Linked DNA regions of Homo sapiens. The protein of the gene in region 2 purifies or fractionates together with the protein of the main gene of each other region. This does not show direct contact. Each region holds a gene or a part of one and is shown on either strand. Other genes may lie near its edges. The genes, in order: KIF14, CCDC89, SLMAP and KIF20B.

What was found.
Region 1: the proteins of CCDC89 (region 2) and KIF14 purify together in Homo sapiens (co-immunoprecipitation; 3 studies listed by BioGRID and IntAct, with this or other methods). This does not show direct contact.
Region 3: the proteins of CCDC89 (region 2) and SLMAP purify together in Homo sapiens (affinity purification with mass spectrometry; 2 studies listed by BioGRID and IntAct, with this or other methods). This does not show direct contact.
Region 4: the proteins of CCDC89 (region 2) and KIF20B purify together in Homo sapiens (co-immunoprecipitation; 3 studies listed by BioGRID and IntAct, with this or other methods). This does not show direct contact.

The regions. Positions count from the first base shown.
Region 1 is NC_000001.11:200,596,713-200,603,751, forward strand, and holds part of KIF14 (kinesin-like protein KIF14), read right to left. Parts: intron 6,630-7,039; coding exon 6,514-6,629; intron 5,357-6,513; coding exon 5,184-5,356; intron 3,792-5,183; coding exon 3,644-3,791; intron 3,402-3,643; coding exon 3,338-3,401; intron 1,710-3,337; coding exon 1,525-1,709; intron 1-1,524. UniProt on the Homo sapiens protein: Microtubule motor protein that binds to microtubules with high affinity through each tubulin heterodimer and has an ATPase activity. Plays a role in many processes like cell division, cytokinesis and also in cell proliferation and apoptosis.
Region 2 is NC_000011.10:85,683,310-85,690,871, reverse strand, and holds CCDC89 (coiled-coil domain-containing protein 89), read left to right. Parts: upstream 1-4,676; 5' UTR 4,677-4,741; coding exon 4,742-5,866; 3' UTR 5,867-7,024; downstream 7,025-7,562.
Region 3 is NC_000003.12:57,927,288-57,930,521, reverse strand, and holds the end of SLMAP (sarcolemmal membrane-associated protein), read right to left. Parts: intron 3,227-3,234; coding exon of another isoform or gene 3,134-3,226; 3' UTR 519-3,133; downstream 1-518. UniProt on the Homo sapiens protein: Associates with the striatin-interacting phosphatase and kinase (STRIPAK) core complex, forming the extended (SIKE1:SLMAP)STRIPAK complex.
Region 4 is NC_000010.11:89,697,603-89,704,605, forward strand, and holds the start of KIF20B (kinesin-like protein KIF20B), read left to right. Parts: upstream 1-3,987; 5' UTR 3,988-4,078; intron 4,079-7,003. UniProt on the Homo sapiens protein: Plus-end-directed motor enzyme that is required for completion of cytokinesis. Required for proper midbody organization and abscission in polarized cortical stem cells.

The DNA.
Region 1 (7,039 bases), on a different chromosome or scaffold from region 2:
CACCACCATGCCGGGCTAATTTTTGTATTTTCAGTAGAGATGAGGTTTCACCATGTTGGCCAGGCTGATGTTGAACTCCTGGTCTCAAGTAATCTGCCGCCTCAGCCTCCCAAACTGTTAGGATTATAGGCGTGAGCCACCGCACCTGGCCAGAACACTCTATCTCTCTCTCTCTCTTTTTTTTTTTTTTTTTTTTTTTTTGAGACATAGTCTCGCTCTGTCACTCAGGCTGAAGTACAGTGGCATGATGATCTCGGCACACTGCAACATCCACCTCCTAGGTTCAAGCGATTCTCATGCCTCAGCCTCCTGAGTAGCTGGGATTACAGGCAGGTACCACCACGCCCAGAAAATTTTTTGTATTTTTAGTAGAGACAGGGTTTCACCATGTTGCCCAGGCTGGACTCAAACTCCTGAGCCCACACACCTGTGCTAGGATTACAGGCATAAGCCACCACGCCCAGCCAGAACATTCTTTCTTTAAGACATAAAAACTGACAATCATAAAGGAAAAGACTGATGCCAGGTACTACAATAAAATTAAGAACTTCAATCAATCAAAGGCACCAGAGAGAGTAAAAAGATGTTACACGTTAGAAAAAAAGATATTTATACCAAAAAGCTCACGAAAGATTGGCAACTCCTACAAATTATTAAGAAATAAGCAAATCAGTTGAAAAATCAACAAAAGATATGAAGAGGCAAGTTACAATAGTAAACAAAAATGGCCAATCAACACATGAAAAGATGTTCAACCTTATTATTAATCAAAGAAATGTAAAATGAATCCATAATGATATACTATTTAGTGTTCATCAGATTGGCATAAAGTCTGACAGTACTAAGTATTGGCAACGATGTGGAGTAACAGGTATTCTCAAGGCCAATGGGAGTAAAAATTCATTTTGGAAAATAATTTGAAATTAGCTACTAAAGTTGAATATGCACATATTCTACAACCTAGTATCTCTACTCTCAGACATACAATTTAAAAGCACTTCCTAAACTTTATAAGAGATAAACTCATACAATGGAATACTTCATAGCAGTGAAAATAAAACAGGAACCAATGTACACAAATCTTGGAAACACAATGCAGAGTCAAAAAAGTTTACATACGCTATCATTCCAACAATATATACAAGTATTCCATTCATATGAACAAAATTCACATAAAGTAACATTTTTAAATTGGTCAATCCAACCAAAAATTCTGTTATGTAAGATAGATAGTTTACTTGCATGTGCATCATTATAATTGCAAGAAAATAAATTATTCTTCAATCAACAGATCAAGTATGCCAAAACAAAAACAGAGAGAGCATTACACTGTACTTTATATTGAGAGTAACTGACCTATCATCCTTATAACACACTCAGAATGTATGTTTTTCCTGACTAAACAATGGGTTTGAAGAATTCTACCAAACGATCAGTATCAACGAATATGCCATATGAAGGAAACCACATGTTATCAAGATATAGAACAGGTGCCTTTTCTTTTTTTTTAGAGGATTAACATACCAATGATCATCAGCAATCAGCACCCCAGATAACTGAATATCATGGCTTGAGTTTGGTTTATACTTTCCAACTGTAGTTGTTCCTTCTTTTATCATATATAGCAGCATCTCAGATAGTTGTGGATCTTCATTCAGATTAACAAGGTTTGGTAAATGATTGTCCATTTGAAACATAATTCCTGCTTTCTGGTAGAAGTCAGAAAAAGAAATTAATCTTAATCACAGTATGAAATTGTTAAATTCACCTAAAACAAATGGTCTATATTAAACATTAAAACAATTCTATATGAAGTCTCACTAAATTAAAGGTTATTTATTTATTTTTTTATTTTTATTTTTTTGAGACAGAGTCTCGCTGTGTCACCCAGGCTGGAGTGCAGTGGCACGATCTCGGCTCACTGCAACCTCTGCCTCCTGGGTTCAAACGATTCTCCTGCTTCAGCCTCCCAAGTAGCTGAGACTACAGGCGCATGCCACCACGCCCGGCTAATTTTTGTATTTTTAGTAGAGATAGGGTTTCGTCATGTTGATCAGGCTGGTCTCGAACTCCTGACCTCAGGTGATCCACCCGCCTCAGCCTCCCAAAGTGCTGGAATTACAGGCGTGAGCCACCGTGCCCGGCCATAAAGGTTTTTTAGACTCTCTCCTCCTTCCTTAGAATCTCTCCTTTGTGACCTCCCTACCTTCTTTGTCCTTCACCATCCTCAGTCTACTCATACATCAATCTATCATCACCAAATTGTGTCTTCTTATTGACTGACCGTCTTTAGAATAGATCAGTTTGTTTTGTTGCATCTTCATTGCCTTCACCACAGGCCCCTGTCAACTCACACCAAAACTACTGAAGCAGCCTCTTGATCACCGTCAACAGCTTCTGTTTTCAATCCATCTTATATCCTATGCCAGGTTAATTCTCTCGAAAGGGTGCTCTCAAAATGTAAATTCCCTGGTCACTTTTTAACAGCTTCTCACTTCCTACAGGATAAAACTTAATTTCCTTGGCCTGGAAATCAAGTCCTTCATAAACTAATCATAACATATCTTTCCAATTGTATCTCCTTATGATCTCATATAAACTGCTTCCAGTAAAACTGATCTACGTACCCTTTCTAAAGACAACTCAAACTTTTCTACCTTTACTTTCAGAGAATTTTCTCTTCCAAGAATGTGCTCTTCCTTTTCTCTTCCTATTAAAATCTTACCCAAACTTCAAAGCCCATCTCAAATGCCACCTCTTTTATGAGATTGGATTGGCCATGCGCAAGGAATTTTCCCTTCTTCTCCTGAATTCTTATAGTACTCCCCCACTACCAATCACTTGAAATACTTTTCATTACATTAGGTTCAACCATATGAAACTGCCAGTGTTCAACCATGCTTTACCTACAAAAATGGCAATTGCTTATGGCTCAATCTACTGAAATCACATTGCATTTCAGTCTTCTATTTACGTTTTGTAAATCTCTCTCTGGATCACAAGCTCTCTGAGGGATGAAACTGTGTTTAATCACCTTGGCTTCCCCTGTTCCTGAAAAGCATAGACATTTAATATATATTTGTAGAACCAAAGTAAATATAACAAGATGGTTTATTCATACTTTAACTTTCCAACTAGTTTATGGGCTGGCTCTAAGCAACCAGTCTTGATCTTAACATTTCTTTATATTAATTTTCCTTACGGTATTGCTTTGTACAGAGTCAGTATATAGTAAGTATTTGAAACATTAAATTTACATGCATTGGCATATTGGCAATATTTATTTCTTGGCATATTTCTTTTATTTTCTAATCAGTTTAGAAAGTTGAAATAATACCTGTAACTCTTTTGTTTCTTGAAGTTTTCTTTTTTCAGCTTGTTCAAACTTTTCTTTCCACACTCTTTCCAAAGACAAAGAAAATAACAGAGTTAAAAACATCCAGATGTATAAGATTGAGAGTCAAGAGACAATCAATGAAAATTAGGCAACTACCTAGTAATATTTAAAATATGATAATCTGGGAGTGGGCTGCTCTATTCATAAGGAAGGTCGGAAAAATACTCAGTATCCTCTTGAGGTCCCTGCCATTCCTATGATTCCAGAGCAACACACTTAACATTTAGAGTACTGACTGTACTCTACCTTTGCATTTCTGCCATGTCTCTCTCCTGTTGATGCAGTTTCATTCTTAAGGATGTTATTTCTTGCCGACAGAGCCTGTATCGTTCAGGGTCAATATTCCGACTGTTTCTCTGAGCAGCTTTTAGCTTTGCAATTTCTGCCTTCAATTCTGAAGATTTATACAAAGATGCATTAATAATAACATTTAATATATAACAATTTCCACAGTAAGCATAATCCTCCAATCTTCTATTTCATTTGAAGTTTTAAATACAGTATTACTAAATAAAATAGAATATTGGAGAAATCAGCTCTACTTTATATAACCTATAAATCTTTACTTAGTCTTAACCTGAAATATGCTCCCATATTAATGAACTTTCCCTGTTCATAAGTAGGAAAGCTGTATAATGTACTGACCAAAGTGGAACACTTTTGAGAGGCAAAAGGGTAATTGTTAAAGTGAAAGTTTATTTAAAAAGTAAAGAAATAAAAGAATGGCTATTCACTAGGCAGAACAGCCAAGATCAAAGATTTTTCAAGCTGGAATTCAGAATATTTATTTATTTATTTATTTAGACAGAGTCTCACTGTCTAGAGTGCAGTGGTACGATCTCGGCTCATTGCAACCTCCGCCTCCTGGGCTCAAGCAATTCTCCTGCCTCAGCTTCCCGAGTAGCCAGGATTACAGGTGCCCACCACTGTGTCTGGCTAATTTTTGTATTTTTAGTAGAGACAGGGTTTCCCCATGTTGGCCAGGCTGGTCTCGAACTCCTGACCTTAAGTAGTCCGCCTGCGTTAGCCTCTCAAAGTGCTGGGATTATAGGCATGAGCCACCATGCCCGGCCCAGAATACTTATTTTTAATGAAAACAGTCCCACTTGTGAAACAGAAGGGATCCAAAAGGGAAAGGATGGACCAGGATAGACAAATCAGATTCTTCTCTGGCTCATACATCTGAAGTGTCTATCACCTTCTGCTGCTAAAAAGGGCCAGAGGACAAAGGGGCATGAAAAGATGATAGTTCTACATCAGCAAAGATAAAACTGTACAAATCAAGATTTCTTGCAGGCATTAAAGTCTATCCTAAATTGATGATTACCTAGAGATAAATAGAAAGCAGTATTTAGCATAAATGAAGTTCAGCCTATACTAGAAACTCGAGCTCCAATTGCCTTTGGATCAATGAACTAAGCATGAGCAGAGCTAGTACATAAAACGTCAATGGAAGAGAGGTCATAAGAGAAAAATAGTAAATAGTTTTATTGGCATTTTGCTGCACACGTCTATGACTGTGTAAATTTATTGTTTAATGCTTACTGTTTCCCCCTTACTCACACTCTGTTTTCTATGTTCTTTTCCTAATTGTTTTTCTCCTTATTACTTATTATCTGTCCTTCTACCTATCATCCTCCATCACTATAGGCTGATGACTAGAATCTATTAAAATAGGTATAGAAAAACACCTTTGATGTTCATAAATTACATATTTTAAGACTGCAACTAATATCTGGGACTAAACTGTGGCAAAACAATTTTTAAATTCTGAGAAAATATTCACCTCTAATTAACTTAGCGTTCATATCTTCATTTACTTTAGCAATGTTGACTATTAAACGGGCTTGGTTAGCATATCTAAGTGTGCTTAATGTTTCTTCTATGTTGCTGGCAGCGGGACTAATCGTAGCAATCATTGCAGTTTTTGAATTTCCACCCAGACTTTCTTTTAACAGCCTACAAGAAAAAAAGTCATAAGACTTTGCTTCTACAACAACTTAATAACAGTAATTATCTAGAAAGCACAAAACAAACTAATAGGGTATATAATACAGTATTATTATACTCTACTCAAATACCATTTAAAACTTTTCTGGTATTTGTAACTATTTCTAGATCTCATAAACACTTTTTCTCTCTTACACTTTTTATATTGTTTCAAGAGGCAATAATCTGTGCAGAGATTCTAAAATGTGGTGGATCATCAAGTATTTCATGACTGTGAGCTACCATAGGGAAGGGACTATGTGTCTTGGTCATCTTTGTATTTCCAGTGCTACCACAACCTTTTGAAGCAGGTGCTCAATAAATGTTGAAAATGATGAACATTGAAACAAAAATTCTATATTGTACTAAAAGCAAAATCTTTATTTTAGAGAAAAAGAGTATGAGACTTAAAACATATATTAGTGCAGAATGAATGTCACTATTTTTAACTTTCATAAGACATGAAAAAAATCAGATTTTCCCTTATAGGTTTCAAGGTGGCAATCACATTGTAATAAACCAATTATAAAGACACATTACCCTCAAGTAAAGATGCAGTCCTTATTGTAACTGTATATTAATGCCTATCACAACTGAATATTAAATCCATACAGATGTAATCTGAATGTAACATATTGAAAATTAAATATACATTCACTAATGAAAACATTTATTGAGCACCCATGTATTAGTCACTGTGTAGTAAGCAAACAAAATTATTCAACTTCTCTTTATACAACTAGCAATATGTTTGGTAGTACCATATATGTTCAAACATCAGCCACAAATAATAGTTAAGTACAAGAACAGTTATTTACACTCATATAGTACATATTATGTATTAAGAATTGTACACTAATAATCTAATTCTCACTTACCCCTAAAAGGTATTGATTTTATTCCTATTTTACAGATGAGGAAACGGGCTAGAATATTAAGTAATTTGCCCAAAGTCACAGAGCTTATAAGATGCTGAGCTGAGATTCAAATCCAGGTAGTTTGGCTCTAGAATTCATAATGCTTACCACCTTTCTCCATCCCAAAGTTAATGAAGTCAGTCTATCATTCTTTTCCCCATAGTATTCACTATATTTTATACAATTCTTTATACTTCAAAAGATACTTGCCATGTAAGAACAGATTCACGATAAGGAATAAAAACACTCCTTTGGTTTGCTTGTTCCGAAAGTGCAGATATAACTTTTCCCAAAGTTAGCAAGGACTTATTAATACTCACACCTTCCTGCATGCAAGAAAAAAAAAATTTTTAACTTAAAATACTTCTCAGCAAGAAATTTATTTCACAAAATATATTTCTCCCCTCATATAATTACTGAGTAAATACTTTTTTACTTTCTTTTTTTTTGAGACAGAGTCTCACTCTGTTGCCCAGGCTGGAGTGCAGTGGCATAAACATGGCTCACTGTAGCCTCGACCATCCAGGCTCAAGCAATCCTCCCACCTGAACCAAGTAGCTGGGACTACAGACACATGCCACAATGCCTGTCTATAAATACTTTTTTCTATAAACTACCAACTTTCTTATGACTCAAACGTATTTTCTTTAAAAATTAATCATAACCAAAAAGTACGTATCTCTTTTTCAACCACAGCAATGCAGTCTATAAACTGCAGATAAAGATATATTTGGGG
Region 2 (7,562 bases):
CCAGTCAACCACTCTCTTGCCACTAGCCTCAAAATTTTTGCTTTCTTTTTTTTCCATTGAATACCCACTCACCAGCACTATTACAGTTCCCATCCCCACATAAATTCAGTGGAACTACCCTGTCCTTGGTGCAAACTGTGGCTGGAGAAAATCACACATCCACCCTGTCTACAATAGAAATGAGAAATAGATGGAGAAATAAAGAGTCCTTGTGTGTGGCTTTGCATCTGCAGTTTTGGTTCTTGAGGTTCTACCTAGTTCCTGCCTCTCCTGCTTTGACTCTATGAGCTCCCGCTGTGCACTTTCTGTGAGCCAATATATTTCCACTTGCTTAGCTAAATTGAATTGGGTTTCTATTAAAACAATCTTGACTAATATGCCCCTTCCATCCAAGACTGGTTTTGTATCCCTTCTTTGTGCCTTCAGTAACACCCAGTGTTTACCACTGTATCTTTGAAAAGAGTGATGTCTAATTTATCTATGATTACTTTAGCAGTGTTCACACTGAATTATTGTTATCCATTTATCTGTGTCTATCACTAAACTGTAATCATCCTGAGAGTTGGGACTTCATTCTTGGATATAATAGTTTCTCAGTCTATGTGAGATGAATGAATGAATGATCAAATGGACAAATGAAATGTGATCTAAGATCATGGGCTTTGGTATCAAAAAGATCTAGATTTGAATTCTCGCTCTATCACTTATTCTCTGGGTGGCATAATTTGCTTAACCTCTCTCAACCTTGGTGTCTTTGTTACCTGTAATTGATAAAATGTGGATAATAATGCCTACCCTTCAAGAATATCATTAGAATTAAGTGAGAGATGTACAAATAAATGCCCACTACCTAGAAGAGCTCTGTAAATGGTAGCTTTAAAAGGGAGGGAGGCATGGAAAGACTTAAAGATAAGTGGAGACGACTCATTGATCACCACAAGGGAGAGAATTGGTCACCTTGGATCTCTGGGAAGGGAATATATGGGATACTTTTAGGAGGGGAGCTAGAAAAAAAATGATTGAGCAAAGAAGACAACCACGGCAGAAAGGAACCAAAGTGATTACTAAACTAAGTTATTTGAGGACAGTGATCGTATTTATTTTATTAATATATTCTTAGCACCTAGCATTGCAAATAACCTTGCAAATGTTTACTGAATAAATGAATGAATATTGATTAGGATCTTATCAGATTCTTGGTCTTGATAAGTAATCTATAGATGTGTGTTATTTTAAATAATGTAAATATAAATTTAATAGAAATGTGTATTAAAATATATTTGCAAAAAAGAAATATAAGCTTTTTCAAATGTGGAAAATTTAGCTGAACATGGTGGTACATGCCTGTAGTCCTAGCTGCTTGGGAGGCTGAGGCAGGAAGATTGCTTGAGCCCAGGAATTCAAGACTGCAGTGAGCTATGATGACACTACTGCACTCCAGCTTGGGCAACAGAGACCCTGACTGGTAAAAAAACAAATGTGTATGTATCTTTTTTCCGTATTTTTCTGAATTCTTTTCCTCCTTTCAGGAAATATATTTTGTGAATTCACTTTATGATATCAGACAACCATATAATCAACAAATAAAATTTTCAATGTTTGTAAGACCCTTTTATTTAAGAGGACCATTCTAATTTTCTAGTCATTTGCCTTGAAAATAACTAGACGAACTCCATTTACGCATATGAAGCTTGAAATTTAAGGAAAAGGACAAGAGAAATGTGGGAAAATTACAAATAAGTTTAATTCACATTTTTAAAGTCTTTGGAATTCACTTTCACAAAACTTCAATATCCTACTGTTTATGTAGTTGTTAAAATTTCAGCTTAGGAAATTTCCCCAGTCTTCAATCTTGGTTTCCATATATAGACAAGAAATTCAGGATTTGAAACATGAGACCTTGATCTTTGACAGTGAGGGAAGAACCTGAAACTCTTCTTTCAGATTTGTTTCGCTCCCAGTGAAATCTGAAGCATTTAAAAATTCATCTCATATCTATAATGACACCCAGGGTTTTTCCTTATCATCATGACTTGGGAGATAGTAAATCTGATCACCAGAAACTGTGACCACAAGAATAGTCAACTCTTTTCCCTACCCTTAATTTTCACAGGATTGAAATCATCTGAATTTTAAGTTTTGTATTTTGCCTTTTTCAGTTGTATTTCTAACATAAGACTTTTCCATGCTATTAAAAATTACCTATAAATGTAATAAGTTCTAGTGGCTGTACAATATTTTTTGTATGAATATATCATAATTTTTGTAACCATTCCCTTTTTTTTTTGAAAACTTGGGTTTCCAACTTTTAGTTGTTACAAACCACACTACAATGAAAAGTTTTGAGCAAAATGTTTTCTTTCAGATTATTTCCTAAGCAAAGATCTCCGCAGAAGAATTACTAGTTCGGAAGCCATAAAAATATCTTAATTTCTCAGTACCTACTGTCAACTGACTTTCACCAACAGTTTAAGAGAGTGCCTATTTCAATACTCCTTTCTAGTCCTGGCTTGTCTTAAGAGAAAATTTTTTGACTAATTTGATACGTGAAATTATATCTTTTTTTTTTTTTTTTTTTTTTTGAGACGGAGTCTCGCTTTGTTGCCCAGGCTGGAGTGCAGTGGCGCGATCTCGGCTCACTGCAAGCTCCGCCTCCCGGGTTCACGCCATTGTCCTGCCTCAGCCTCCTGAGTAGCTGGGACTACAGGCGCCTGCCACCACGCCTGGCTAATTTTTTGTATTTTTTTGGTAGAGACGGAGTTTCACCGTGTTAGCCAGGATGGTCTCAATGTCCTGACCTCGTGATCCGCCTGCCTCGGCCTCCCAAAGTGCTGGGATTACAGGCGTGAGCCACCACACCCGGCCGAAATTATGTCTAATTTTAACTTGTATTTATTGGATCACTGTAGACGTTCAGTTCTTGGCCATTTTTGTGAATTTAATTGTTTATTTTTTAGATGTTAATGTTTCGTTGATATGTATAAAATATTTATTTAAAAAAGGTAGTGTCTGGGCTGGGTGCGATGGCTCATGCCTGTAATCTCAGCACTTTGGGAGGCTGAGGCGGGTGGATCATTTAAGGTCAGGAGTTCAAGACCAGCTTGACCAACATGGTTAAACTCCGTCTCTACTAAAAATACAAAAATTAGCCAGGTGTGGTTGTATGTAATTGTAATCCCAGCTACTCAGGAGACTGAGGCAGGAGAATTGCTTGAGCCCGGGAGGCGGAGGTTGCAGTGAATCGAGATCGTACCACTGCACTCCAGCCTGGGCGATGGAGGGAGACTCTGTCTCAAAAAAAAAAAAAAAAAAAAAAAAAAAGTAGTGTCTGTCATATTAGGGATATTTTTCTCAATTTGATTTTTACCTTCAACATCCACTTAATACACATTTATCTGAATCTCCCCCATGTGCCAGGCACTAGTCTAATCATCAAGGATGAAATAGACACAGTCCCTGCCCTTAAGGATCTTACAGTCTAACAGAGGGAAGCTGGCAGATAAACAGTGACTGCAATAAAATTTTCACATCCTCCACCAGAAGTACAAATAGCTATAGCGGATGCACTAAAAGATGTGAGTGACCAATTGGACATGTAGGGGCCAGGAATAGGCTTCAGAGACGATTCTTAACTAAGAATAAAAAGCTTTACTAGAGTGACAAGGGACAAAGTAGGAAAGGCATTCCAAGTAGAGGAACACCTAAAGATAGGGCGAGAGAGCTGGTTAGTGGATTTGGGTTTGGCTTCAATATTTGGGTTTGAGGAGTAAAATGTCAAGAAAATCCAGTGGAAGAAGGGGCTGGAGAGACCTCAGAAGTCACATAATTTAAAAAATTATACATAACTTTTTGAGTAAGCTTTCCCTTTCTGATCTTACATAATGTTTAAGATAAAAAAAAAATCCTTCCTAGCCCCAGAGATTTGATGTTTACCTTCATTTTCTTCTAGTTTCTGTTTACATTTAACTAATCTATCAGGAGTTGACTTTGGCATATAATGGCAAGCTTCATTTGAATCTTATTTTTTCTGTTTTAATGTTTATCTGTGTGGTTCACTAAGCTTCTTTCTGTAACCTTATTTTGCTAATGGGTAAAAACAGGGGGTGTTAAATATCTAATAAAGAGTATTTATGCCCAGGTGGGGACAATGCTAAGAACAACAAAAGAAATTTCACTGGTGTTTTCTATTTTAATACTTAAATACCAAAAGGGAGCTGTGCCAAACATCACGGGTGCAGATATGCAGGCTTTTAGGGTCCTGGCTCTCAGAATACCACTACTACTTTGTATTCATAGACTGAAATTTTTTGAGGAGCCAACCATGTTTCCACAAACAGTAATTTATTCAAACGATAACTGAAGAGGGGAGAGGGAGGATAAATATATCATTGCCTGCTTCATTTGTTTACTACTACCAGAAATTAGGTGGAGTCAGGCTTCCTCCCCTGATGCTGGCTGGAGATTGAGTGGGGTTGGCATCTCTGTGCTGTACAGGCCAGACACTGAGACAGTTGACAACTGAGAGCTGTGATTGGTTAGAAAGGCAAAAGTAACCCGACCAGATTGGCTCTGGACTCCCCCAGATTCCCCTGTTGTTACTTCATAGCATTCTGAAGACCTGTCCACCAATTACAGGGCTCCTTACTGGAAAAACCAACTGCTGGGGAGTGCCAAGAGTCCCTAGCAACACCCTGCAGCGTTTGAAATCTGAGGGGAAAAGACTGTAGTCAGCCCTTAGTGGATGAGAGCGCCTATGCTCCAGAAACAGCAGGCTCCCAGGATGGACACCCCGCCCCCTGAAGAACGCTTAGAGAAGCAAAATGAAAAACTGAACAACCAGGAAGAGGAGACGGAGTTTAAGGAACTGGACGGTCTGAGGGAAGCCTTGGCAAACCTCCGGGGACTGTCAGAGGAGGAGAGGAGCGAGAAGGCTATGCTTCGCTCCCGCATTGAAGAGCAGTCCCAGCTCATCTGCATCCTGAAGCGGAGGTCAGATGAGGCCCTGGAGCGCTGCCAGATCCTAGAGCTGCTCAATGCAGAGCTGGAGGAGAAGATGATGCAGGAGGCTGAGAAGCTCAAGGCCCAGGGTGAGTACAGTCGGAAACTAGAGGAACGCTTTATGACCCTAGCAGCCAACCACGAGTTGATGCTCCGCTTCAAGGATGAATACAAGAGTGAGAACATCAAGCTGAGGGAGGAGAATGAGAAGCTGAGGCTGGAGAATAGCAGCCTCTTCAGCCAGGCTCTGAAGGATGAGGAGGCGAAAGTATTACAGCTCACAGTCCGGTGTGAGGCCCTCACTGGGGAGCTAGAAACGCTGAAGGAGAGGTGTGCTCAGGATGCCTGCCAGGCACAGGCGCGCGAGAAGGAGCTGCTGGAGCTACAGAGCCAGCAGGCCTGCACCCACACCAAGGAGACAGAACAGCTGCGCAGCCAGCTGCAGACCCTCAAGCAGCAGCACCAGCAGGCTGTGGAGCAGATAGCTAAGGCAGAGGAGACACACAGCAGCCTGAGCCAGGAGCTGCAGGCCAGGCTGCAGACCGTCACTAGAGAGAAAGAGGAGTTGCTGCAGCTGTCCATTGAAAGGGGCAAAGTGCTTCAGAACAAACAGGCAGAGATCTGCCAGCTTGAGGAAAAGTTGGAGATAGCAAATGAAGACAGGAAGCATGCGCTGGAGCGGTTTGAGCAAGAGGCAGTGGCTGTGGACAGCAACTTGAGAGTCAGGGAGCTTCAGCGCAAAGTAGATGGGATCCAGAAGGCCTACGATGAACTCAGGCTGCAGTCTGAAGCCTTCAAAAAGCACAGCTTGGATCTTTTAAGCAAGGAGAGAGAACTCAATGGCAAACTCCGCCATCTCTCTCCATAGGGAAGTTTCTGCTTCCTCTGGCCTGCAATTCAGAATTCAAATATTTGCGTCTTAGCATTATGGCAAGAGTAAAGATGATATCCCATTTATTATACTTTCAAGCACAAAAGGCAACTCAAAGAAAAGCTACTTTACTATGATATTGTTGTTATTATTGTAAAGCCATTATTAATTTTCATTTCTACACCTAGAATACACAAGATTTGCCAGATTTCCTTCTGTGCCTTAGAAATCTTAAATTTACTAGTAGTATCTTCTCCTACCCATAAGTTATTAATTCTCAACCTCAGATATCTTCATTTATGTTAGGATTTTAAATTAGCAGCTTCTATGATTTAAGTCAATCTAAGTGCAGTGAGATGTGCCATTGTGAAAAATAATTAGCACAATTACCCACTGTAGATAGTTAGGCTTATAGTCTCCCATAGTTGAGATTGTAAGCAAACATGTATCAGCATAATAGCATGAATGCTTTGCAGAAAAAAAAAAGTGTCTGACTTTATTTTATTTTGCGCTAGCTTGGAAAATGATTGAGATCAAGTTCTTTAACAAAGAAGGTCAATTTTATTCTGTATGAGCAATATGATTCAAATAAGTTATACAAAACAACTTTTATTTTTTCTGCAAGCTTAGATAATATTCCATTTTTTGGTTTTCTCTTTAAAAAGAGGATTTAGATGTGCAATAATGCAAATATCAGTAGCTTAATTTAATATTGCACGATATGCTAATAGACAATTAGACAATTTGGGGTAACAAATCATAGCAGACGTGATCTATAGAGTAACTCAGAAATTGTTTTGTTTCTATTAGCATATTTTTTGTAATTAAGATTTTCCTTTTTTAAAAAAATCTAAGCTGAACGTGTGTATGTATGCTTGCAGCATTTTTGTAGTAATACCTACATTTTGTAAGAATAGTTATAAAAACATGATATATATATATGTAAAGTTCTTAAAAAAGTTCTCAAAGGTAGTTATATTTTCTTATCTTCCTGTAATTAGGTATTGATATATAAACATTATTATGAATACCTCTCAAAATAGATTGTAATGTAATATTTTTCTCACCCATTTTGCTGAAGGCTACCAAGTTACATAATGAATTTACTTAAAAAATATGACTTGGTGCCTTTTTAGTAAAACCATTTCCAAGCAAGTGTTACCTTGCCTCAGGTAATTTTTTACACCCATTTTTTCACACTTCTATTAAGATTATGCTATTAAATACAAACTTTTCTCATCAAAATAGAAACCACACTGCTAGCTTCAAAGGACTATTTACTTCCTTCTACAGGTTACCAAGAATCAGAATATAGGAGCTAAGTTAATCATGGATATCCTTTATTGAGCCCATACTATTTATCATTGCGCTGAAGCAATTTGGATGAATTACTTTATTTAATTCTTAGGACTATTCAAGAAGGAAAGCGTGTTCATTTCTATTTTAAGGAAGAGGAGACTGGTTTTGGTAATTTTGCTTAAGGCCAGTTGGTCACTGGGGGAGCTGGATTTTGATGACTACAGCACACTGAAAGATAATTTTTGGCGACCAAGTGCCAGGTGCTGGGGTAGGCACTAAGAAGAAGCATAAAGAAGCATTTTTACTGCCCTGGAAGAGCCCCCATACAGTCTAAGGGCAAAAATAATAATAATAATTATTATTATTATTATTATTGTTATTATATACTGTGATC
Region 3 (3,234 bases), on a different chromosome or scaffold from region 2:
TAGGGTCTCACCATGTTGGCCAGGCTGGTCTCCAACTCCTGACCTCAGGTGATCCACCTGCCTCGGCCTCCCAAAGTGCTGAGATTACAGGTGTGAGCCATTGCACCCAGCCAAGACTGCAGTTTTAACTCAGTTGATTTGCATGCAGTTTTTTCTCTTTGGTAGCAGATTCCCATCCTTTTGATAGTAGATAGTCACTGGAAGCAGCCAAGAGTCACCAGATTTTGGTCAAGTGTAGTGATTAAAGTGAGAGATCAAGTAGGCAATACTAGTTTTGGTTGAAAGCCTCTGACTATAGGGCAACGTGAATGGTTTTCACATGTGACTCAAAGTGGCTCTAAAGGCAATAACAACAGGAATTCCAAAACCATTGTGGGCAATTGGTTCATCACCAAACCAAGCATATTACTTCCAAAAGAGTGAACTATGAAGGCGACAAACAGAGCTAGGTGATAATGCTTTCTCAGGATTCATAATGTTACACACATATCTCACTCATACACAGAAATTCTGAATGGTTGAGTCAATCAATTCATTTAATTAAAGTAGATTAAAGTTTAGGCTTACCTAAAACTTTAATATTTGCAATATTTTTTCAGTATGACATTCTCATAAAAACGTATTCACCACTCGAATGGTACTTCACATACATTATCTTTTTAATGTTCACACTACTACCACAAATATAAGTATTATTCTCCGCATGTTATAAATGAGAAAATGGAGACTCAGAGAAAATGTGATTTGCACAAGGCAACAACATCTGATAAAAGGTAGAACCAAGATGCCAATACAGATCTGTTTTGCTTCAAACACCACGTTCTTTTTATTCTCTAACCCTGCCATGTAGCACCTTTGAATAATTCTTAAATGTATCATTACAGGGTTGTTCAATTTTTAGCTGCAATGCTTAATATTTCTTAATGACTCTATTATTACCAGTGAATAATCCTATTCTTTATTTAACGTGGAAGTGAACTGAACAAAACTGAAGGTATTGCTTATGAACAGACTTATTTCTATTCTTGAGGAAAACTGGAAGTAACTACAAAAAGCCATTTATTCCACTTGAATGAAGTAAATATTGATACTAGACCTTACATTTAAAGAGACCAGTCTAGCAAGTGACTCTCATTTTAACAATAACCATATTAAAAGAGAAAAAAATAAAGCAGTAAGTTAAATAAAAGGTTAATAAAACTTGGAGGAAACAGCTCAGTGTTTTCTTTTAAACCCTGAAGAATACCAAATGTATGTTATGTTGCATAAAGAGTCATGTCAAGAGAAGACTATTAACAACCCAATAGTAGAGTCAGCATTAAGAACTTCAATGATATTCAACTCAAACATGCGTAGGGAGAGTAAAGTTATTTTATTAAATCATGCACGTCACGTGTGTTAGTGCAAATAGTTTAATCTGTACTCCAGAAATTCTATTGTACTTTATATCTTTACAAAATAGATTTAAAACAATTATTTACTTTAAAAAATGTAATTCTGAAGTTAAGCATTTCAGAACAATATTTGCAATAACCTATATACAAGAGGTACTGGGTACCACTGGCATATTAGCATTCTGTGGTGGAGTGGCTTCCTGCAACAGAAAATGATGAAATGAACTATATGACAGTATTTTCTACAAGTCATTTGTGACTAATTCCTCCATAAATCTAGTGATCTTCCCAAAAGCAATCTCAAATAGCTTAAAATATAACCTTTAAAGTATAAACAGTGACTGCCAAACATCACAAGGCAAATTATACCCTAAACTCCTATTTCAATATTTGGCTAGACCTGTGGATTGCCACAGAACATTCAAGCCAATTCACTGACATTCCCTCCCGGTCTTCACTGACTGAAAAATTTAACTATGTGATACTTTAGGATATTCTATGACCTAAATAAACTTTATTGACATAACTATGATGCCGCACAAAACCATGGCTAAACTTTCACTTGTGTTTTAAATTTATAATATCAAGCAGTGTTTTTAGGTGCTTCATTGTGCATAGAACACTATTAATCTTGGGAATAGTGCTTTTCATTAACAGAAAGTCCCAATTAACAACAATAAAAAGAAAATAACCATTTGCATACCCAACCAGGAAATTTGTTGGTAGGTACAACGCTCACCCTGAACATGAATTAGCTCTGACACATCATAAACCAAATTAGGTCAATACAAGCTTATCTAAAGAGATATTAATACTTTCTTCAATTAAACATGCTTGGAGGAATAGATGATAGAAAAAAAAAATCATGCTTCCTAAAATGCTGTATATGAGAAAGTAACTTGGCTTTTAAAGAAAAATATCTCTTTAAATACATGGTTTAATAAATTACATTCCAATTGACTCAACATTTTGGTTGACTGCACTGAAATTGTGTAATTACTATGTTTTTGCTCCCAGAAATACTTCAGTTTGCTCAAGAAAATACACTCTCATGGAAAGTTTTTCAAAGTTGATGTCCTCCACATCTTCAAGTCACATTAAGGCTGAACAAGCGTGCACATATTCCCCAAATTATCACCATAACAGTTTATTTTCCAAACGTATTTTTCCTTAAAAAAAAAAAAATCCACGCAAATAGTTGTCTCTAAGTCTTGTTCCCAATAGCTCAGTGGTTTCATAACAAGTAAAAATGGCGTAAATATGTAAAAAATATATATATGTGTATATATTTCAAACTGATAGGCACTGAGCACACAGGGCCTCTCTTCCCATGTATGTATTGGTTGTTTGGTTTGGGTAGTTATCAAATCAGAAAAATGAATTATCTGGTGATCAGAATTCAGAGTAAAATACTCATAAATTTAATGTTATAAATAATCTGGTGTACCAAGAAGCCTACTTTAGGCCACCATAATATTCAGAATCTTAACATACTAATTTAAAAATTACATGAAAAATTGCAAGCAAATTATTGCTTACAGTAGAATAAAGTCACAATTTTATATCTTCTTTATAGACAGATACATTTTATATAATTTAAAGCAATGACCCTACAGCTGTATTCTTGTACTTCTGCTGTTTTAAGAGGTAAAGAGGAAGAAAATGGTTCTGTTTGTCCCCAGCATGAGTGTGATGCCAGCTTCTAGAGGGAGGACGGTGTACGGACTCAAGGAACGCTCTCATGGAGAAGCTCTGGCCAGACCTGGCACGTACAGCACGATGGCTGTTACTGCAACCAGGGCAGCCAACATGGGCATCCAGGGCCAGGGTTTCTGTGTGG
Region 4 (7,003 bases), on a different chromosome or scaffold from region 2:
TATTTTTGGCAATTACTATACCAAATACTATAAATACTATATCTTTAAATGATATGCTCCTCCTAATATTATTTCTTCATGTATCAATTATAGATATCTATTTACTTCCTACAAAGACAGACAATCACTTAGCTCTAGTTACATATATTTTTTCCTGTACTGGTTACCTTTGCACACTGAAATAATATGCTTAAACTTCTACATCCTGTTGTCTCATTTCTTGATTTGCACTTTGTTAAGATTTTGGTATTATAGACATAAGACTCAATCCTTTTCTTTCTTCTCTTCCTACACTCTTCCTTCCATACCTCTGCTGAGCAAAACCTAGGCCTTACAGAATATAATTCTAGCTCTTCTTTAGCATGTCATATAGGGCCCTTTATGATCTAGCCTCTGCCTACTTTTCTTATCTCCTGCCATTATCCACTTCAGCTAATGTTCACAGTCATGCTGAAGTAGGTATTTAGTTTTTGGAATCTTTTGTGAACTCTTGTTCTTTTTATCATTGTCTCACAGCCTTCCATGGCCTGGAATAGCCTCCTCCTGTAATTCACTGGCAAATCCCAATCATTTTCTTCAGCCTACATGCTACATTACGAAATCTTCCCTAGTAGACATCCCTTATTACATCAAAAAGTATTTATTGAGTACTTGTTTTTGTGCAAGGTACGGTTTTAGATGTTGGGGCTATAGAGGACCAAGATAGTAACGAGTTTGCATTCTAATGACTTAACAAACAGATTTAATAAATATTCCTACCACTATGAAACCTACTATGTACCAGGATTATACTAAATAACTTACATATGCTATTTTAATCCTTACAACAATTTTATGAGCCCTATAAGTGGCTGGGCTTATACTCAATCTCAAGTCTGACTTCACAGCCATTACTTTTAAGCTATGCTCACTCTGCTCCCATTATTCCTTGTTCATTTCTATTACAACATTTGTCATGTTTTGAAATACTTTGCATATGGATTTCCCCATATGAACCACAGGAGATAAAAAAATTATTTTCAGGACGGTGTAGAACCAGTGCCATTCTAGATGTATATGAAAGAAGTTAATACATTATATACAATGGGTGCCTAAAGGCATTAGGGATTAATTGTCTCTTGAAATCCCAGGTTGAGAAGGGCTACTTTAGATGAAGGCCTCTTAAGAGCCTCTCAAGGGTAGAGACATCTGTCACTTAGTGGGTGGCTGATAAATTTTTGTTGAACTTGTTATTTAAACCTTTGCAATTAATACATACTCAAAAGTATTATTTTGGGGTTGAAAAGTCAGCTGCTTCAGTCTTGCTTCTAGAGATGGCTTTGCAGGTGGAGTTAAGCACTTAGTATTTTCTTAAGAGAATTCCAGGGGTGTTGGATCCAAACTTTGAGAGGCCAAAGAATGCACAGACTCTGAAGCCGGATCACCCAGATTCAAATTCCAGTCTCTCTGTTTGTTATATAAATTGAAGCAAGTTATTATTTAACATATGCCAGATACTTTTATAAATACTTTACACTACTACCTGATTTAATCTTCAACACTTCTATTTAGTAGATACCTTTACTATTTCCTTACTAGCTCCATGCCTCAGTTTCCTCTTCTATTAATTGGCTGTAACAACAACAAATTGCCTTACAGAGTTACTGTTAGGATTAAATGAGTATAAAGTGCTAAGAATACTACCTGGCATAAAGAAAGTTAGCTATTACTAACAGTAGAGACTGTGGCCAGGGCAGAAAAATCAGCTTGATGTAACTTACCAAATTTTTCATTTTATGTTAATATTCATTTCAAGGGCACAGATGGAATTCTTTGGAATGGGTACTAAATCTTAAGCACTTCCCAATCAAGCTGGCTCTGCATCTCCCTAAGGGAAAAACCCAGCAGCTGGTGCTGAAATGAAAAACGTCGGAAAAAGTACCTTTAAAATCTGGATACTTTTCTGCAACTCCTCTGCCATCTTCCAAGTCCACATTATCATTATCTTTTCCTGGGATCTCTTGCAACAGCCTCCTAACTGGTTCAACAGCATCCTCCCTGGCTGCCTCTAGTTTCTCCAGGAGATTAACCTTTTCAAAAGATAGATGCACATTGGATTGCACCATGCCCATGCTTAAAACTGGTTATCCAGTAAGCATTTCGTAATACTCAAGTCAGTAACTTGGCTAAGGCTTACAGGGTCTGGCCTTGGCCCATGCCTACAGATTCACTCCCCTGACTCCTCCCCATGGTCTCTACCCAGCCACATCAGCTTTCATTCATTGTTCAACAAATATTGATTTGCTTGTCTTGTGTTAGAGAGTCATTGAGGATACATTAGCGACCAAACAAAACACAGTTATTCTACTCACAGAACTTAGATTTTACAGGGTGGGGGAACAACAACAATTGCTAGTTGTAAAAAGTATAAAAATGAAATTGAACCTGCAAATAAAAAAAGAGTGCTCACTTGAGATACAGTAGCCAGGAAAGTCTTCTTTAAGAAGGTACTATTTTAGACGTAACCTAAATGATGAAGGGAAGTGCCACGTGTTGAATGGAGAAGAGAGAATTTAGGTACAGGGAACAACCCATGCAAAGGTTCATACATGCTGGAAAGAAGTTGGTGTTTGAGGTATCCAGAGCAGATCAACTTACTGTACAGTTAGTGGGGAGTGAGGTCGGCTGACACTTGATTGTGCAGGACCTGGGAGGCCATGGTAAAGATCAGAATTCTATTCCTTTTCCCCCCTCCTCTTTTTATTTTATAAAATCTGTTATTTTAGAAAGTTGCAAGACTGGTACGATGTACACCATTATACCCTTCAACTAGATTCACCAATTACTAATATTTTGCCACATTTGCTTTCTCTATTTTTTTGCCATATCTTTTGAAGGTAAGCCGCAAACACTGTGACACTTTGCTGCTAATTACTTTAGCAAGCGCCTTCCAAAAACAAAGGCATTCTTCCACTTAATCACAAATTAATTCTCACATGCAATCAATTTAAAACTGATTCAATATCATCTAATATGTAGTTCATATTTAAATTTCCCCAGTTGTCCACAAATGTCTTTCGAAGTTTTTTTTTTTTTTTAAAAACTATGAACCAGCCAAGATTCACAAATTTCATTTGGTTTCTTTTGACTCTCGACTAAAGTAATTTTCCACTTCGTTTTTTTCTTTTTCCTGTCATGACACTGACATTTTTGAAGAGCCTAGGCCTGTTGTCTTGTAGAATATTCTACATTGTTTTTTTCTGATTGTTTCCTCATGATTAATGTCAAACATTTCTAGCACAAATACTATCGGGTGATATTAGCGATGCTAAGTATCTTCACTTGGTTAAGGTATGTCTAATAAATCTCTTCAGTGTAAAATTCTATTTTCCCTTTATAATAAGAAATGATCTGTAGGGTGATTCTTTGAGATACTAACATCCTCTTCCCTACAACCTTTCAGTTAATTGTTTGTTTTAGCATCTTGCATTCATTAGTTTTAGCATTCATAAGCTTACCTATATCAATTTTTAGACTGGCAGTTGCACAATGGGGATGCAGCGAGGGAAGTGACCCTCCGGATCCCGGGATGCCGAGCCTTTTTCTGCCCCGTAGGGACAGGACTGGGAAGTGGCTAGCCCGCCATTCCTCGGCCCGTCCTTAGGGGAGTCGCAGGACTAAGTGCAGTGGCAGTGGCCTCACCTCGGGCCTTCGCCACATCTTTATTGCCTCAAGGACAGAATTGGAGATCGGTGTCCCAGTCAACAGCGTGGTACTTATGACAGCCGCGAGAAAGCGCACTACTAAAGCCCGGCTAGCAGAGCTGGGAGGCAAACCAGACCGTCAGCACCAGGGCGGCCCACGCCTGCTTCCGCCCATTGGCTGCCCGCGTTTCAAGACCCGCCCCCATATTGGAGAGCTTCTTCCGGTAGCCACTGGAAAGCCCGCAGCGCGAGCCGGCTACGCTCCCTGGCGGAGCTCTGGACGCCCCACCTACTCCCAGCGTTCAGTGCGGTGCCCTGGCCGCCATTGTTTGAATTTGAAAACGGTAACATCGCAGTGCTGCTCGCGGGTCTGGCTAGTCAGGCGAAGTTTGCAGGTGAGGAGGTGACCCGCGGGAATGTGTGGGGAAGGAGGTGGGTGACTGCGCATGTATGGGGCCTAAGGTGGGGAAACGGCTTTGGCAATGTGGACATGTTCCGACAGGGCTCATACCCCAGTGGAGGTTACTGTCAGGAACTGGGTTGCGGAGCGATGCGAACACGGGGTACGCAGCGAGGAATGAGTCATACTAATTCGGTTACGGTTTAAATCTCGCCTCCACTGCTAATTAGCTGAGTGACGCAAGACAATTCATTTAATCTCTCTCTGTACCTTAGTTTTCTTATCAGTTAAAAGGCTGCAATGAAGTGTCTATTTCTTTCGGCTTTTGTGAAGATTAAATGGTAATGTGTAAAGTTATTAGTGCTGGCACACAGTAGGTACTAAATGTTTGCAGTTATTAATATTATTATTGTTGTTGCTTCTGTTGTTGTTGAGGAACAGGCCTGTTTTGCCACACCTAGTTTTCTGAAGCTCTGAGGTGAGCAGTTTGCTCGGCTGGTAGGTAACACGGCCTTTTTGCGGGGGGAGCCCTGTGGTAGCCTCTGTGCACTTATTTCCAGACTACTCCTACTGGTCCTTGGGGCTTGCCCTTCTAGGGTTTTGCAGTGCCAGGCTGAAGAGTTTGTGGCACAGTGACTGCTGTCATTCCCCAGTTTAGAAGGCTTTCTCCATCTCGATTCGCTCGCTGGTTCAGTGATGCATGTCTGGCACAGTTCTCTTATATTTCTTGCTAAACTACTAGTTTACAGAAGTTCACGCCTTATGGGTTAGGTAGTGTAACAGTGTATTTATCTTACATGTCCAAGACTCCAGATTTTAAATTGTAAAAATAACATAAAATACTCATCGATTAGTTGTGAAGACTTTTTTTGAGGCTTTGTGTTGTAGACCACATTCAGAAACCTCATTCAGCAACAGATTCTGCTATTTTTCACCAAAGTCTCCAATTGTGGATTCTTATTGGAGAGAGGGTAAATATGCAGTTTTCCAGTCAGAGCAGCCTTTTGAAATGAAAAATGAGGTCTTGGAGCCTGCTGTCACGAAAGATAATATTACAGACTAGGACCGACTTTTTTTTTTTTTTTTGGAATAGTATTTTCTTTATAACCATTATTTTAAGTCATTAGGTAGTCTTTATCCCTGCATAAGTCGCTGAATTTGTTATAGGGGATACAGAGTGGTATAAGGCAAGGTTCTTGCCATCAAGAAGTTTCCAGTTTAGTTGGGAAGGCCACGTATAAGTAGAAGTCATCTAAAATCGCAAGAAGTTACAGTAAGTCTGAACACTTTTAGAAATGCTAGGAAGTAGTTTGTTCATTGAAAAATGAGCATATGAACAAATACTTTATTATAACTGCTTTTAGTACATAGGAATATTCTTTTTAATTCAGCAATTTAAAAGATTTATCAACACTTTTCTTTAAACCAAAAATTATTATTTGAAGCCACAGGTGTTTTTTAGTTTTCTGGGCATTTCCATGAACTCTGTGTTATGAAATGTCAGGCCGGTACTTTAACGTTTTGCAGATGCTCCCCCCTCTGCACCCCCTTACCCATGATCTAGATCAGTGCTTTCCTTAGTCTTTTTGCAATTTAGGGGAAAAAAGTCAACTATGTTCTTGTGATACGTTTAGGAATTTCAGCCTGATCAAGGAAAAAGATTGACAACAAGATGGCAGGAATAAACAAGGATTTTGACAGGATTGTAGGCAAAGGAAATCCGTCTCAGTTTGGGACCTTTTCTAGACCAGGGTGAGGGGCCACCATCTAGAGGGGAAAGAGGGCAAGGGGAATGGGGAGTCGGGGAGGAAAGAATCATAGAGGGGCTTACATGCCTAAATGATGTTGCACAGTGGAGAGTCTCCGGATCATAGAAACTCTCAAGGGCAGCAGTGGCTTGGGGGTCTTGATAATCCCGGGTTTTATGTGTCTGGCAAATGTTGGGTGCAGTTTCATGGGGCATTCAAACCTGGCAGGCTCTAAATGGCTAAAAATATGCTTATTTTGGGCCATTTTGAAAGTAAATGGATGCTTCAGAATTTGACTTTGGCGCCCCAGCAGGCTTTTCCCTTTTTTTTTTTTTTTTTTGACGCAGTCTTGCTCTGTGTTCAGGCTGGAGCGCAGTGGCGCAGTCTCGGCTCACTGCAGCCTCTGCCTCCTGGGTTCAAGCGATTCTCCTACCTCAGCCTCCTTAGTAGCTGGGACTACAGGCGCATGCCACCACACCCGGCTAATTTTTGTATTTTTAGTAGAGTCGGGGTTTCACCATGTTGGCCAGGAGGGTCTCGATCTCCTGACCTCGTGATCCACCCACCTCGGCCTCCCAAAGTGCTGGGATTACAGGTGTGAGCCACTGCGCCCGGCCGTAGGCTTTTTAATTTTTATTTTAAACATTCATGGTCCTTGATCCAGTGGGCTTTTGAGCTAAGATCCCTACCAGCTGTGAAGAAGTTTACACTGTAGAGCTATTATGCAAGGGCCATCTTTGGTTCATTTTATATAATACCTGTGGGTGATGGTCGTTACTACTTTCTTGAGCTAGGAACCTTAGTTTGGGAGTCACTGATCTGTATATTTTTTAATCTTGTCAAAAAACAGCACAGAGTCCTCCTCCTCTCTCTGGTATTGTACATCTAGTAGATTCTCAGTAAATATTAGAATGTTAGTATTTTTTAGTTAAGGTTATCCTTAAGTTTACCTTTTAGTTTAGTGATTTGATGTTTAATTCAATGGTAATAGTTTACTGATGCATTATTCCTATTTAACTTAAAACCTGTGATGTGTCAGGTACTGTTTTGAATGTGTTTACATATATTATTTTACTTTTTACTTGAATTTGAAATTGAAAACAATTTTTCAGATAACTGAGTTTTGTTTTGTTTTTTTTTTTTGACGGAATCTCACTCTGTCACCCAGGCTT